2 separate regions of the Homo sapiens genome follow, and region 1 is linked to region 2. The links come from fine-mapping of genetic effects on gene expression. Tissue or cell type: whole blood. Region 2 holds a variant in brackets; the other region holds the start of a gene. All regions are shown on one strand. Distances are between the middles of the regions.

What was found. PIP is the estimated chance that this variant, and not a neighbour inherited with it, causes the effect.
Region 1: it holds the start of PTCH1, and the variant in region 2 is fine-mapped to the expression of PTCH1 in whole blood (INTERVAL, PIP 0.94).

What each region holds. Positions count from the first base shown.
Region 1 is chr9:95,505,727-95,513,831 of GRCh38, forward strand. PTCH1 (patched 1) reads right to left here and starts at 3,540. Exons shown (of 24, transcript NM_000264.5): 1 at 2,435-3,540; 2 at 681-873. The coding sequence starts at 2,635. RefSeq lists silencers at 166-225, 386-445, 876-1,115, 1,646-1,695, 2,476-2,795 and 2 more and enhancers at 1,221-1,854, 3,440-3,989, 4,943-5,706, 5,707-6,468, 6,334-7,306.
Region 2 is chr9:95,034,149-95,042,253 of GRCh38, forward strand. The region is part of intron 13 of AOPEP (aminopeptidase O (putative)); the gene reads left to right. Among named protein-coding and RNA genes, the nearest start is that of MIR6081, 27 kb to the right of the region's middle. The variant A/G (reference allele first, on the strand shown) is at 4,121.

The DNA.
Region 1 (8,105 bases), 470 kb after region 2:
GCGTTCCAGTCTGTGCCTTACTATTTTTTTTTCCACTCCTTCCACCCCCACCCCGCGTTTTTTGTACCTTGAGACAAATGTTTTTTTCCCTCAGAGTTGAAAGCTGTCCAAAAACAGGACCACACACGCCGCCGCCTCCGCAGCCCCGCGCTGCGCCCGCCCCCGGCCCTCCCCAGCGCGGCGGCCGCGGCCGCCGGGGGCGCGCACACTCCAGCCAGCCGGAGGGGTGGCCTCTGGCTCTCCCCGACTCCTTTTTCTTTGGACGCGGTGGGTGGGGGTGGGGGAGAGAAGAAAGCCGGGCCGCGGAGCGGGGCCGGGAGAGGCCAGCCCCGGGGCGCCTCTCGGGGCGCGGCCCAGGCGGACAGCGGCAGCGGCGGCGGGCCCGGGGCCCCCGGCGCGCAGAGTGGTCCGTCCCGGAGGGGCCCCGCGCCCCCGTCCCGCCCCCGCCGCTCTCTCCCACCACACCTCGGCCGGCGCAGCGCCCCGAGTAGATTACAGCGCGGCCTTTGTCGGGCGGGCCTGGCTCCCGGCCAGGCGCCCAAACAATAAACAATCCCCCGGGTGCGGGCAGGGGGTTTCGCCGGCCGCAGCCAGGCTCTAGGTGTGCGCTGGCGAATATCTCTATCAACCGCGAGGAGGGACCGGGCCGGGGGCGCGGGCGCCGCGGCGGGCGCTCTTACCTTCCACCCACAGCTCCTCCACGTTGGTCTCGAGGTTCGCTGCTTTTAATCCCACCGCGAAGGCCCCAAATATGAGGAGGCCCACAACCAAGAACTTGCCGCAGTTTTTTTGAATGTAACAACCCAGTTTAAATAAGAGTCTCTGAAACTTCGCTCTCAGCCACAGCGGCGCTTTCCGGCCAGTAGCCTTCCCCTGGGGACGAAGCAGAAGGGAGGAGTGAGCGCCGGGGAGTCGCGGCCCGCGCGCCCACGCCCGCTTGCGCGCACCCGCCCGGTGAGCCCCCAACAGCCGTGGGGGCGCGGGTGGCCGCGGCACACGGACTCGCCCTCGAGACTGCAGCCCCGGCGGATCTGAGCGTCATGGGGGGCTCGGTCATAAAGCCGGGCCGCAGCGTGGGAGCTGCACCTCGGGGACATCAGGGCGCCCCCACCCGCGGGATCCCTGAGCGACTTGGGGCACTGGGGCTGCAATACAGAAGAGGAAGCCGAGGTAGAGAGGAGAGAAACCACTCGACACAGACAATATTCACCCCAGAGCTGAGAAGGGAGGGGCTGCGTAATCCCAGCGATGGAGCCCAAGGTTCAGGAGCCAGCAAACCAGTCCTGCTCTGTCCATCACCCTCGGGGACGGGCGCTAGGGGCGAGCGCTCTTTGGAACAACATATTGCGGGTTCCCCCAACTGGACCCCCGCCGAGAATGGTAGTAAGTGGGGATCCACGTGGTGAGCGCGGCCGCCGGAGTTCACTCCCGACGCATTTCCATAGCGTGGGGAGAGGCTGTGTGAGCTGAATTAGGAAGTGGGGCAGCCAGCTGCAACTTACGACAATATTTGTGATCGGAAGAGGGCAGCCACATGGATCTTTCCCTCCTCTCCCTTCCTTTCTGGTTAAACGTAAAAAACAGCCGAGTGCAAAGGGAAGGGCTCAGGCCGGCGCAGGCTGCTCCCCGGCGCGGCATTTCCCCGGCGCTGGCCGCGGCCCCGGCGGGCCCCCGTCTGGGTGCTCGCCTTCCCTGGATTCCACACATTTCAGCGAGCCTCGTAAACACAATGAACCCGGCAGCTCCGCAGACTCGCACCGCGAATTTAAGGTGGCAATTTGTTTACAACTTTTCCTCCCCCGACCAGGCCCTAAGGAGAGGCGGCTCAAAACCTGGAAAACGGGGGGGATATCTTTTTCCGAGAATAATTTTTTAAGGGAGCAGAGATTTCATGCTCAACAAAACCAAAACTGGCTGCCAAAAAAGGAAACCACCTTTATTTCGGCTCCCTCCCCCCTTCCTCTCTCCGCCTCTCTCCACTCCGCCTCCCCCTCCAAGATGTTAAGAAATGTGGCAGCCGTACAGGAGTTTAGGCTGCAAATAGGGGCAGGGGCGCAGGAGGAAGAAGTTCAGGGCAGGGGGCACGGGGCAGGACAGTGCCGCGGCCGCCCTTGAGGTGGTCCGCCGTGGACGGCTTTCCAGTGCTCCGGAAAAGGCACACCAGGGAGGGCGTGTGTATACACACACACACACGCACACACACACACCTCCACCCCCTGCGGACCTCAGACAGCCCTTTCCTCCCAGGACCAGAGGGAGGGTTTGAATTTTTCAATCCCCATTTGTCTGCTGCTTTTCCTGGAGAGGTGTGAGTGAGTGTGTGTGTGTGTGTGAGAGAGAGAGGAAGAGAGTGTGTGTGTTTGTGTGTGGCGGGGGCGATCCCAAAGAGTTAGAGGAGGGAAGAGAAAGTGGGAGGAGAGAGTCTGAAATGCACCTTGGAAATCTGCTCCAGAGCGAAGGCGGCGTCGCAGTAGCTGGGCCGGTGCAGATAGTCCCGGTCCGGCGCGGCAGCACGGCGCAGCCCCCCCGTCCGTCTGCGCCTCCCGCCTCCAGCCGGCCGTCCCGGGGCACCGATACAGCCGCTGCCGCCGCCGCCGCGGTCCTGGGGCTCGGCGGCGTTACCAGCCGAGGCCATGTTGCCGCCGCCGCCGCCGCCGCCGCGGGGACGGAGGCTTCCCGGGCGGCCCGGCGCGCTGCTGCCGCTGCTGCGGGCTCCTGGCGCGCCTGGGCGCTCGGCTTGCGAGGACGCTGCTGGCCGCAGGCTGCTCGGGCTCGGGCTCCGGTTGACAGACCAGCCGCTGCTGCTGCTCACACGGCGGGCGCTGCTGCCGCTGCGGCCGCGGCCGCTGCCGGGGAGTCAGACCCTGCGCCTTCCATTGCCACATTGCGCGGGGGTCCCGAGGTCTCTGCGGCCGCCGCTGCCCACATCCAGTTCGCGGAAGAGCGAGAGCCGGCGCGCCGAGCGAGCCTGTCCTTCGGGCGCTTCCGCGGCACTCCTTGCGGTCCCCAACTCCCCCTACCCGCCCCCCGCCCCGCGCCGCGACCCCTTCACTGCAGAAAGAGCCAGCGAATCCCCGCTGCTCCCGCCGGCCGCGCTGGCTCTCTCGGCGCCTCCCGGGTCGCCCGAGCGGCCGCGGAGGGCAAGCGCAGAGCCGCCGCCGCCGCGGGGTCCGAGGGTGCCCGGCGGGTCTCAGCGCTGCCGGGCCCGGGCAGCCGCAGCTGCCGCTGCTCCCGCGGTGGCTGCTGCTGGCGGTGGCGGCTCCAGGAGCTGCTGCTCGGGCTGCTCGGGCTCTGGCTGCTGGGTTCGCGGTGGCTGCTCGGTCCCGGACTCTGCTTTCTTGTGCTCCTCGGCAACCCGCTGGACCATTCTGTCCCCGTGCAGCGCGCCTCTCTCGCTCCCGGGACCTGGGGACTCCGCTCTGTGTGTGTGCAGCGGGCAGCGGCCGCAGCAGCTCCTTGATTCAATAGATGAGATGGAAGAAGAAAAAAAAGAACTCTCTCCATTTGGAGAAAGAAGAGGAGGAGGGGAGGGGAGGGGGTGGAGGGGGAGAGAGCGAGCGAAAGAGAAAAAGGCTGGAGCTCCCGCCCCCGGGGCTGTCAGATGGCTTGGGTTTCTGCGACGCGATTGGCTCGCGGAGGGCAGAAATTACTCAGCAAACATGACTATTATTAGCTGCTTAGCAACAGCTCACCAAAGTAGAGAGACCACCCAGGTAGGCAACCCAGTGTGTGCATCCTCGGCTTCGGGGCAGCCTCTGAGAGCGCCAACCTTCTCGCATGCAATACTTCCATTAAGGAATGCTCCCCCTCCTTTCTCTCTTATTCCTTTTCTTTTCAACAGTGTCTTCTTTTTGTGGGATGCCTTTGCGCGCACACACGCGCGCGCACGCACACACACGAACATTTGCCTCGCGGTAGACACGGGGGGAAATGTAATATTTTTTTAAGCGCTTAAACAATTTCTGAAATTCCTCAAAGAAAAGCCTTTCAGAGGCACCTTGGCCTCAAGCTGCAGCAAATACTGGGAGGTCCGGCTCGCATTCCCAGGCCTGCACCAATAATGACAGCGTGCTGGATAGTGCGCCAGTGTGTGCCAGATTTTTTTTTCCTCTTCTCTTTTCTTTTATAACTAAAGGGAAGACTTAGGCTCTTGCAGGGAACAACGCCTCGCATTAAGATAAACAGAATGGAAAGTTAAAGAGGAAAGCAAGGACGTTGGGAAAAGCCATCTTTCTTAAAATCCGTCTGCCCCCCAGCCGCTTTCTCCCCCCAACTTAAAAAAAAAAAAAACACAGTCTTGGTTTGAAGGAGTCAGTGTTCTATAAACGTGGAATCCAGACACCGAAGCAGTCTTGTAGAGGCAGAGGCGTTTTTATTTGAATCTCGAATGTGACATAAGTAAAAGAGAAACAACAGAATCTTTTTTTACAACTTAGAGAAACGGAATTGTTTCCTTGAGAGAGTAAAGTTTTCCTGATTATTTTGGGTTCATTTGTACACCCCTTTTTATTAACCAGATGTTTATATAGTCAGTATTTTTTTTTACAAAACTCGGTATGCATGTTATATTTAATAATAGTATGACGTAGGAGATTATAAATGCCCCGATGCTGGATTCATTGAAAACAAACTGTGCGCGGATCGCGAGGATTCGTCCCGACACCGCGTCCAGTGTCACCAAGGCATCCCGGGGATTCGCTTCCCGCGGAGGGGGAAAACACGCGACCCTTTGAGGTGGATTCTGGAGCCAGACACGTCTACACAACTAGGCTTTTTATTTAAAAAAATTTTTGTTTTCGGAAAGTGGAATGTGTTTTTCTTACGTTTCCAAGTTATTACGTTCCTCCCTGCGGTAGGAACCCGACCCGCAAACCCTTGATTTGCTTCACTTTATTTTTTTTTTTAAACGGGGTTGAACTGCAGAGGGACTGGCAGTAGCGAGAAGTCTAGTGAAGTCGTGAAATGGGGCGGTGTGGCTTTAAGATGCGCACGGTGTATGTTCATTGAAAAAAAAAGAAGAAAGAAAGGAAAGGAAAGAAAGAAACCCAGATGGAGGGAAAGGGGGAGGAGCAGGGAGAAGGCGGAGCTCCGGTGGCCACGTGACCCCGCGCCAGGAGGCCCGGTGCGCGCGCGCGCCCGGCTCCCGGACTCCCCGCGCCCGCGCGGCCGGGGCAGAGTAGGTAGGGAGGCGGATGCGCCGGGCCGGCTCCGGGCCTCCAGCGCGGTCTCCCGAGAGCCCAGGCGAGGCGCGCGCCCAGCCGGCGCGGACGGACGTGCCGGACGCGCCGTAGTACATTCCTGAAGGCGGACCGGCCCCCTTACGCTGCCCAATGCCCGCGCCGCCTCCCCGCGACCGGCCAATGGTCGCGCTCACGAGTCCCTGCCCATTCAGCGGCCCCGCGCTGGCTGCCCGGGCGCGCTGGGGGCTGCGGCGGGGCGCGCCGGCCACCGGGGCGGTCCACGCGGCTCCCGCAGGGGGCCCGTCCGCCGGCTCTCCCCGCCCCCTTCCTTCCTCCCCGGCGGTTTCCCCTCCCCGCTTCCTTCCTTCGGCCTGCGCCTTCTCCTTCCTCCCTCGCCCCGCTCCCTCCCTCAATCTCCCCTCCCCCACCAGCCTGGCCACCTTCCCTCCAGCCTCTCCTCCTCCCCGGCTTCAGGGGGAGGCCCTTCCCCCGACCCCCTAACCCGCAAACCGTATGCGGTGCCGGGGTCAGGGCGGGATGTCCCGAGGAAGAGAGGGAGACGGGGTGGAGGTGTTTGGGGGCGTTCGCGGGATCCGGAGGGGGACCTGAGCACCGGGCCAGCGCGGAAATTCAAAACTCAGACCGCTTAAGGAGCACGTGATTTTGTGAGTGCCTCAGGGAAGGGCTGCGGAAACTCGGAAAGCAGGCGGGCAGCATGCGAGGAAAATGACACTGAGTTGATAAAGAGCTCAGACGGCTCCACACATTGCCAGTTTCATCTTTGAGTACGATCCTGATGTTTATTAGGTTTGATAAATAGCACAAAACAGGAAAAGAGGTTTACTATTCTAGCTTTTCTTACTGAATGGTTATGCCGACACTTCAAGTCGAACCATTGTGTGTTTGCTTCTGGAAATTGCTTTTTAAAAACTGGGGGAGGGGGGTAGTACCCCTAGTTTTGCATGTTAGCCTTTTTATATTTCAAGCTTGCTGGAGGGCAAGGAACCATATAGCCAAAGACACGTTGCTATGTTTGTCTTTTCAAACTTCTCCACCACGTTTTGGCCCAAAACTATTAGTGTTTCGTCTCAATCTTTTACTAGAGGGATTTCAGTATAGCTTGTTTGGAAGAAGGAATTCTGGAAGGAAATGGTAAGCTGTGTGCCCGTAATGGATCCGCCTCACTCTCCGCACGCGGCTGCATGTCCTCTGGTTCCGGCGGCTGCCACATGCACGTCATTTCAGTGGCAAAGCCTCTTCCACTCAGGCCCATATCCCTTAGTTTGACTTAATTCCTAAACGTTTTGAACATTGATCCCCGGAGCTTTCAGTGCCCTGAGCCCCCTCGCCCGCTGTTTGATGGGTTAACTTTTCAGCATCTCAGACAATGGTCCCGGCCTGTAAATTCTACCCGTGGGTTCCAGGACGCACTCCGGAGCCTCGGCTCTAACGAGCGCTATCTTAATCTCCCCACCCCCCACCCGCCGCTTCCCCTGTGGTCTGCTTTTTTCATACTTAGAGATGAATTACTTTGAGGATCTAATTGGCCTTGTTTCTGTAACGTTTTAAGAAAGGGAAGAGGAGCCAGTGTAAAAGCCTGCTCGACTTGGGTGGTCAGGGCTGAGGCTGCCCCCAATTTGCCTCATTGCTGATGCATGCGAGTGCGACATTCCCAGCGATAATGTTGTTCCTAATCAATCTGCCCTTATTTACATTTGTAAGCATTGTCGGCTTTAATATGCATGCCCTGTGCAGGGGACTGCTGTGCCACACCGGGTTTGTTAACTTCAACTAACCACAAGGATTCCACAGATCTGAGATGCAGACTGGGGCAGCCAGACCTGCTAAGGTGTCCTCCGGGAAGACAGTCCCTTTAAATGGCCCTTCTGCCTCTGGCACCCCTTGTGACAGTTACCAAATAAAAATAAGTGAGAACTTGGGGCCTTATCAGCCAGCAGGAGTTGCCAGCCTTTATGAAGCAACAGCTGAGTGTTCCATTTCCCCTTTCCAAGTAAAGTTCATCTCAATGCATAAATTGTCATTTTGGTCTCCCAGTCATGATCCAAGACTTCTCATTGGAGTGTGTAGTTTTCAAAGCAGATGCCTTAAGCTCTCCGGATTCCCTCACATCTCCTCCCTTCTCTGTTCCAATACTACAAATATCCATGGCCACACCACACACATTTCAAAAATGACATCAGATTATCCAAATGATGACAATGAAATAAAACATCTGCCCTTTGTGTTGGGATGTTCCAATGGTAAGCAATTGTGGAAGCCAGACTTGGTGGAGTTATGAAAAACCACAGTGAGATTTAACTTTTCACTGGTTTCTCAGATCAAACCAAATGAGTCTTTAAAATCCAATGTAATTTGGCAAGTTTTGCAGAGTATAAATGAATAAAGGGGTTAATGTATTCCAGTAATTTGACCCTGGGGCCATTTATAATTTTGTCTACTGAGTTTAATACTCTTCCAGAAATACAAGGAATTGCAAACATGATTTTAAGTCCTACAGTATTTTTGTTGAGAGGGTCGGATGGAGAGAGGAATTGGGGATTTGATGCAATATTCTTTTACTGCATGGGGAGCCCAGGATACAGGATGTGAGTGATGGTCAAGGCAGGGCTTCAGCAGTTCCAAGCAGGTACCTTGAATATGAGTTGAGTCGACTCAACTCAAGCCAATGTGCCACCATCCACCACATTTTCTTGGCTCCCTAAGAATGCCTTACTATTTTCTCATTGGCAGCTTTTGTATATTCTTAAAAGGTGATGGTAGAAAATGAGTCTAAAAGGTTTCAGGGAAGTCGGGGACGGGGTGGGGGGAGATTCAGCAGCTACAAAATTTAAAACTACTGGGCTTGACTCCCCTCCCCTACTCCCTTCCACCTTCTGTTTCCTCCCCTTATTTACCCCCTCCCCA
Region 2 (8,105 bases):
AAAACAAGGGAGTTTTCAGTTATATTTGAGACATAGTGATATTATTGTTTTTTGCTTGAAGCCAAGATGTAGGTAGCGATTGCTTCCACTTTATTTTTACTGTACTTTTATATAGTAATTTGGACAGGTGTCTTCATAAAGGAGATCTTTGACAAGGGAAAATAGACCCAGACACCCATTAAGACGTGTTTTCTCCCATTTTCTCCTTCCTTGCAATATAGGTGGGTTTGATAGAATAGTATTAGGAAATACCAAAGAATCTACCAAATGGGTAAATGCTACTTAAGTGTCTGTACAGGTCATTTAGATGAGAGGATTTGAGACTATGCTTGTTATAATTTGAGAATTATACATGGGTCAGGAATGACATGAGGGCTGAGGTTGAAGCAATTTGAAAAGGAGAGATAATCATGAAACTCTACTTGGATATTAATAATTTTTCCCTTGAATCACACACAGTGGCCTGCGAGGCCTCATTTTGGCTCATCAGTTTTTATATGGGCTGAAGGCATTTGTTTGGAAGATGTAAATACCCTTGTGTTTTTAATAGGGAAAGGTTGGATCAAGTTTGCTCTTAATTCTGATCAACTGACAGTCTTTGACTCAACATGAAGCACACTGAGATAAAGCGGATCCTGGTTTGCTGATACAGATCTCTCAGAAGAGGAGCTTGAGAAGCGGGCCTTGCTGGGATTTCCTCTAATCGCTGCATTGGATTGATTGATAGGATTCAGGTTTTGTTATGAACTTGGGAGAGAAGTGGGAAGACATCCAATAACACCCAACATTTCATTTAATATTTGAAAGAAAACCATTTCTTTTTCTTTTTTCTTTTTTTTTTTTTTATACTTTTAAGTTCTAGGATACATGTGCAGCCTTGTTACATAGGTATACATGTGCCATGTTGGTTTGCTGCACCCATCAACCCATCATTTACGTTAGGTATTTCTCCTAATGCTATCCCTCCCCCTGTCCCCCACCCCATGACAGGCCCCCGTGTGTGATGTTCCCCACCCTGTTTCCGTGTGTTCTCATTGTTCAATTCCCACCTGTGAGTGAGAACATGCGGTGTTTGGTTGAAAGAAAACCATCCCTACATTGATGACATACCAGTTTTCTCCTGAACCTGGACATTAATTGTTGGCATGTTGGGGAAGTCTGCTCCTGTGATGTATCTCGTAGGAGCAGTCAGCAGCCAGACCTAACAGTTTGATGCAATCAAGTTCAGGGCCAGTTGGAACATCTTGAAAAATCTAAGTAAAGGTATCTAAGGTGGGTAGTAAATCTCTAAGGAATTTCCTTTGTATTAGTGATTTGCTGTTTTTTAAAATAAATCTCTTTGACACCAGCTTCAGATAATTTTTTTTTTTTTTTTTTTTTTTTTTTTGAGACGGAGTTTCGCTCTTGTTGCCCAGGCTGGAGTGCAGTGGCGCGATCTCGACTCACCGCAACCTCCGGCTCCTGGGTTCAAGTGATTCTCCTGCCTCAGCCTCCTGAGTAGCTGGGATTACAGGCATGCACCACCATGCCCGGCTAATTTTGTATTTTTTTTAGTAGAGACGAGGTTTCTCCATGTTGGTCAGGCTGGTCTTGAACTCCCAACCTCGGGTGATCTGCCCGCCTCAGCCTCCCAAAGTGCTGGGATTACAGGCATGAGCCACTGCGCCCAGCCCAGATAATTTTTTTTTTTTAAAGAAATTGCTGTGTGGCCTTACTTGCTTGTCAGTAAAAGCAGGCACCGGCCCCCAATCATTCACTCAGTTATGACAGACTTCCCTCCTACCACATGCTTTCAGATGCTTTACCCAGAAAATAGGTCTGAGGGTGGTGACTGTAGACCCCCGGGAGAGGTTTCCGTGATGGTGGTCACACTGAGTTTTCTTGAATAGAAGGGATTATGCAAATATTTGTGTTTTAAATCTCCCTAGATTTTTGCTGTCTAGTGATTTACATGGCTTTAAGAATTTTTGTCCTGTTTAAAGGTTCCTTTGTGAGGATGTGCATATGATCTTGTGTGATCTCATTTTCCCTAAGCCTAGGCTTGAGGACAGGTGGAATCTTCCACTGATCTTGCCTGCTTTCTTAAGATTTTACCACTGATTTCTCAGGATATTTTAAAACATTTCATATTTGAAAGCATGAAAATAAAATGTTTTATTTCTTTAAGTTATAATTCATGAAGATGGAATTTATCTGATAGGTCTTACTTGCTTTAAATCTTTGCCTTTGGAAAAAAAATTCCAACTTTTAAACAAATTCCTAATAGTAGTTGCCCTTTAAATGACAAGAATCATAGTTGGGGGTTGGGGTGAGAGAAAATCTTTCATCTCTTTTAAAGGTATTTAATCTTTTTTAAAAGTTTCCTTACTTTTTAATTATCTTCAAATATCTGCCATAAAGTATGTGTTTACTTGCTCTTTATAAACAAGAGCAGCACTTCATTCCTTTCGGTAAATGTCAGAATGTTGGGTTTTGTTTTATTTCTCCTCCTCCTCCCCGCCCTCCTCTTCTTCCTCCTCCTCTTCTCCTTTCTTGTTCTTCTTTCTTCTTCTTCTTTTTTTTTTGTGGGGAATAAAACTATAGTTTGTTTCAGAGGTGGCCAAGCATAGCTCAGCTGAGAGATGGAGGGACAGCTGCTGCCTGGGCACCTTGGCTTAAAGTCACCCTGAAGGGACTGTGGGTTTTTAGAGATCTTTTCATCTTGTCAGTCTTCCAGCCTGGCCACAAGCTTGCCTTAGCAGTCTGCAGCCCGTGTGCCATCTTTTGACAATGTCATTGTCATGGGATGGATGCTCCCTGTGATGTGGCAGATAATGCATTCCAGTGTGCTACTTGCAGAAAGTGGTAACATCTCTGTGTACTTTTTATTCAGAACCTAAGTTGCTAGTTAGTTGAACACCACAGATGTATGAGCTGTCTTCGGCCTAAGAGTGGGCATGAAAATTGTAGCAAACCCATAGAGGCTTTTAATTTTTTTCTAAAAAGACCTCACAGCAGTATTATTGATTTGGTTTTAAATAGCTATTTTATGAAGTTTCAGGATAATTTTTTTTTTACCTCACCTTTTAGCCTTTATTTTGATTTTTTAAAGGGGGGTGGTTTTCCTTTATCAATCCCTAACCATTTTATCTTAAGAACTCTTTCTGAAGTCATTCTTTATTTCAGCCAGAAAACTGATTAGTGTTCATTGATAGAAGATGATAGGCTGTACAGTTAACCATGAAAAATATTTTTCTCCTTGACACCTTAAAGTTGTTGTCAAAAGTATTACCGCATTCAGTTAAAGAGAGTGGGTAGAATTTTATTGTCTGAGCTTATAGTATACAAGCACCAAAGCTCGATGAATTCAGGTCTTTTCCAGGAAGTTTAACTTGCATTTTTTTCTCATAAGATATTCACATTTCTTTTCCACTCCTAATTTTGTGGCATAAAATAAAACATAACTTTTGTTCTGGGCACAGTTTCTTATTGCTGAAGGACTTAGGAAAGAGCATGTCAGGAGTAGGAATGGTCCAGCTAGTGAAACTGAAAAGAAAAACCCTGGAGCACTATTTGTTCCTCTTCAGCGTCTGTCTGTGGGCCTTCAGCTGCTCTTGGGGAAGGGCCATGCTTACTCCTGAAGAATTGCGGCAACAGTAGAAGGGGCTTCTGTAAGTAATGTACCTCTCAGTGCAAGCTAATACATTCCTAAGGGCTTATTTGGCTTCACTTCCTAATTTACAGTGATCTTGACCGGCTTTCTGCCTTGAGACCCTGAGTGTCATGCCGTGGTGGGGAAGGTTGGCACCTCAGGCACGTATGAGATGGTGTGGAGCTCCTTAGATGAAAGGTGCTCGGTGTGGGAAATACAGTAATGTGAGAAACCTTCCATCCAGCTGTCTGTCCGTCCATGCTCCATGCAAGCAAGTTCTCGGCCTCTTGAGCCTGTGTCTCCCACACCGAAAGTTATATGTACTGTCCTGATGCAGGAGAAGAACCTAAGTTTTCTGGGGAGAAAAAATGGGCTTTTAAGCAAGGTGAAAAACAAAAAACACTTTCTTTCCAGTTATACCAAAAGTGATGATATAACTAAACCAAACTCCCTGGAAAACTAGATACCATCAAACTTGAATGACAGGGT[A/G]GATAGGAATGAGCCCAGCCCAGACTGTAGGTGAAGGAACATGTTTTCCAGCAGCTGCAATTTAGCATGCATTAGGTTGTGAATTCTGCACTTTGGTTTCTAGGCAACTTGCACACATTTTAAATCTGAATATAAACACATACACACCCCCAAAACAGAATGAAACAATAAAAAGCCTAATGATATAAACCATGTTTGCCACAAGTCTCAGTAACTATAGCAAACAAATCCAGGCCACTACCTGGCTAAGTAGAGATGTTGGTGGTTAGACCTAGGAAATAAAGACAAAGCAGCTATAAATAACTTCTTTTGTTGCACAGTGATAATGTCTCTACAACGCAAGCACATCAGGTGTGCTCTGCCTCCAAGGTGCCCTGCAAGAGAAGGCATCTCCTCAAGGGAACGAGTCTTGTTAAGGGAGATTTCATTTCTTTTCCTGTTCTTTTAATTAGTCTTACATTAAGATTCTTAGAAGTTGTACATCTTCTTATTGCTAGCAGCAAGCTCGGTAAGTCCAGGTTACTTCTAGGCGGACAGGTCTGACCCAAAGGGTGCTCATCAGTGCCTCCGTTGCCGCCAGTAGGGAGGTGATAGGAGCAGTTCTGGGGTGTGGCTTAATATCTGTACTAGAAATTGGGACTTACGGATAACCTCGATGAGTTCACAGATGAGGCGGGCTTAACATAGGATTGCCAGTAAATTTGGCAATCGAAATGATCCTGTTATACCAAGCACTGTTTAGATTCATGTGCCAAAGTGACCAGCTCTGGGTTTGAAAGAGGGTTATTGTGGGCCTTCTGGATGGACAGAAGTCAAATGGAACACATGTGAGCATGTGTTCAATGTCTTTAAATATTGAATAGCATAATGGTGGAGTTAACATGGGATCGGCCCATGCTGTTGGAGTCTGCATCTTGAGCAAGATGGAGCAATTGAGAATGGTCCAAAGAAAAGTAGTATTGTGGGCATGAGAAAAATAAGACCTATGGGAAAATTTTTTAAAAACTGAAATTGTTGGCCAGGTGCGGTGGCTCATGCCTGTATTCCCAGCACTTTGGGAGGCTGAGGCGGGCAGATCACTTGAGCCCAGCAATTTGAGACAAGCCTGGGCAACATGGTGAAATCCCATCTCTACAAAAAAAAATACTAAAAAATGATGCAAGTGTGATGGTGCACACCTGTAGTTCCAGCAACTTGGAAGGCTGAGGTGAGAGGATCACCGGAGCCCCAAGAGGTCCAGGCTATAGTAAGCTGTGTTCACACCACTGCACTCCAACCTGGGTGACAGAGTGAGACCCTGTCTCAAAAACAAAAAATAAAACTGGACCATAGTTTTAAGGAATTCCTATCCTATAATTAAATACATTTAACATAAGTAATATTTCTCTCAAAAGCTTTAAGCAGGCTGTATAAACAGAAACAACTTAGGAGCTTGCTAATTTGTTTATCCCTGCTATAGACATGTTTCTTCATTCATTCATTCATTCATTCATTCATTCACCTTTCATGTTAATTTTAAGAAATCTTTAAAATAGCCACTATCATTATTTATTGTCAAGAACAATGATTTGTGATGGCAGACTAAGATTGCTGACTTTTTATTTAGAGTTTGTAAAAACAGGTTTCAGGATGTTAAATTTTTATAGTTATTGCATGATTGATGTGTTTCCTTTTCCCACAGAACTAAAGCATGTTAAAGATGCTATTTGAATTTAATTCTGGGAACATAATAAAAATAGCATTGGGGCATTGAGGAGCTCAGAGGCACAGGCCTCATCAGCCCTGCTTTAATACCTGAGCAGCAAGAGGTTACAGGTGGCTTCTCCTCCCTCCCAGGGGACCTCAGTAGGTAGAGGAGAGAGGAGGCACACAGTCAGGGGACCCTGAGGCCAGAGCCACACCAGGGGATTCTGCTGCCCCAGTCCCTTCCCACAGGCTTGTTTGTCCATTGACAGGAACAGTTGCACGTACAAAATCAACTTTGCTTTCCCATCCTCTGTAAAATGTAGTGCCCAGCCTCTTTATTATGCATTTTATTACTCACATTTAGAATTATATTGCTATCAGGAATGGTTTCTTGAGAACTGGAGCGGAAGAAAGGCTGTGTCCCACGATATGTGATCCTGCTAATAAAGTGGATGATCAGACACAAAGCCAAGTTCATCTTCCCACCTTGGGGCCACCACAGAGCCACGTGGTAACCCCCTTTTTCTGAAGGAACGGCATTGAGGCCCAGGCCATGTGCATTTCCCCCTGGGCTGCCTCCTCTGACCCCAGGATTCCAGCTCTTCCTCAGAAGTTGTCTCCATCTCTGCGATGAAAGAGGAGAGCAGGGACCTTTCTCCCTCCCCTCCTCTATGTCTTTCTGACCAGGTGCCCCCAGGACGCCTATTGCTGATGGGCATAGGCATTCCCAGTTCCCTCCTGGCCCAAGCTCCTGGAGGTGGGACCACACATGACAGAGCGACACCCAGCTTGTCCTCTCTTTTGCAAAGTGCAGGATGAGAATTTTGGGTTATCCTGGCTCCTCCCATGTTTTTTGCAGCTCCAGTGACAGCAATGCCAAATGATACCCAAAGATAAAAATATTGATCCAAGTGCAGATGAGCTGAAAACATTCCTTTTCTGATAGAAAACACGGTAAACAGTCTCCCTTCCTCAAAGATTGTACCTGGAAAGCCATGGCTGGTTAATTTTTTCCCTTTAGAATACATAACATTGTGAACTTCAGAAAATACCATAATCAGGGAGTTCCATGACAGAGTTAAGTCTCCACACTCCAAAAAAAAAAAAAGCAAGTAATGGCTGTTGATCGTGTGGATATGTGAATTGCAATAAATAACAGGCTCTCACGTTTTACCAGTTCTTTTTACTACTTAGACATTTTGTCAGGCTTCTCAAACCAAAAGGCTCTGTGCCATTCAGGAACTTAGCCAGTTTTCATGTATGTGAGTGAAACATTTGGGGCCAAAGAAAGACTCCTTTGTAGCAAGAGTGACTTGCGCTTTAATCAGTGTAGGAAATGGCCTTATGAGAAGATGGATTTGTGCTAGAAAAATTGAGAATAAGGAAACTATTCAGAAATAAGATTTAAAAAAAAAAAATCATCCTTGTGGTAATTTGAAATTGTGATATTGCCAGATTGAGATTGTATACTGTGTACTCAGAGTCCTTGGGGGTGTGTGTGTGTGTGTGTGTGTGTGTGTGTGTGTGGAGAGGGAGAGACACTAAAAAAGTACAATAAGCCAGTTTGTGATCTCACCATATGTGTTGAATTGAACACAACTCTTCTGCACTTAATGAAGACTTCAGCCTTTAGGGGTAAATAAAACATCACTAAACAGGGATGGCTTGAATATTTCTTACCGGCTGTAATAATTAAAGCCATGAAAAAGGTGGTGGGGTTATGTTACTCATTAACTGGAATCGCTCTTAGATTTGATCAAGACGCGGTGGCCCCTGGCGCTTTGTTTCATGTTTGTCCTTTGTTTCATTGACACGCTTTGCCTCGGCCTCCGTGGCGCTATAAAAGCAGCAGAGCAGTTAAAGAACCGGACCCAGAAGGCCCGTAGACCTCCTATCTAGCCGCCTTTTCTCCCCTCCCCCCAAACCCAACAAACTCTTCAACCTTCAGAACTGAGCCTGAAATCATCTATAAAGCAGCACACTTAGGGATCTGGGAGGGAACGGGAAGAAACCTTCCTCTTTTAAAAGGAAACTGATGAATTCAAGTGTAGCCAAGAGCTTTTAAAGGATGTCATTGGCCAGGCGCGGTGGCTCATGCCTGTAATCCCAGCACTTTGGGAGGCCGAGGCGGGCGGATCACGAGGTCAGGAGATCAAGACCATCCTGGCTAACAGGGTGAAACCCCATCTCCACTAAAAATGCAAAAAATTAGCTGGGCGTGGTGGCAGACACCTGTAGTCCCAGCTACTCGGGAGGCTGAGGCAGGAGAGTGGCATGAACCCAGGAGGCAGAGCTTGCA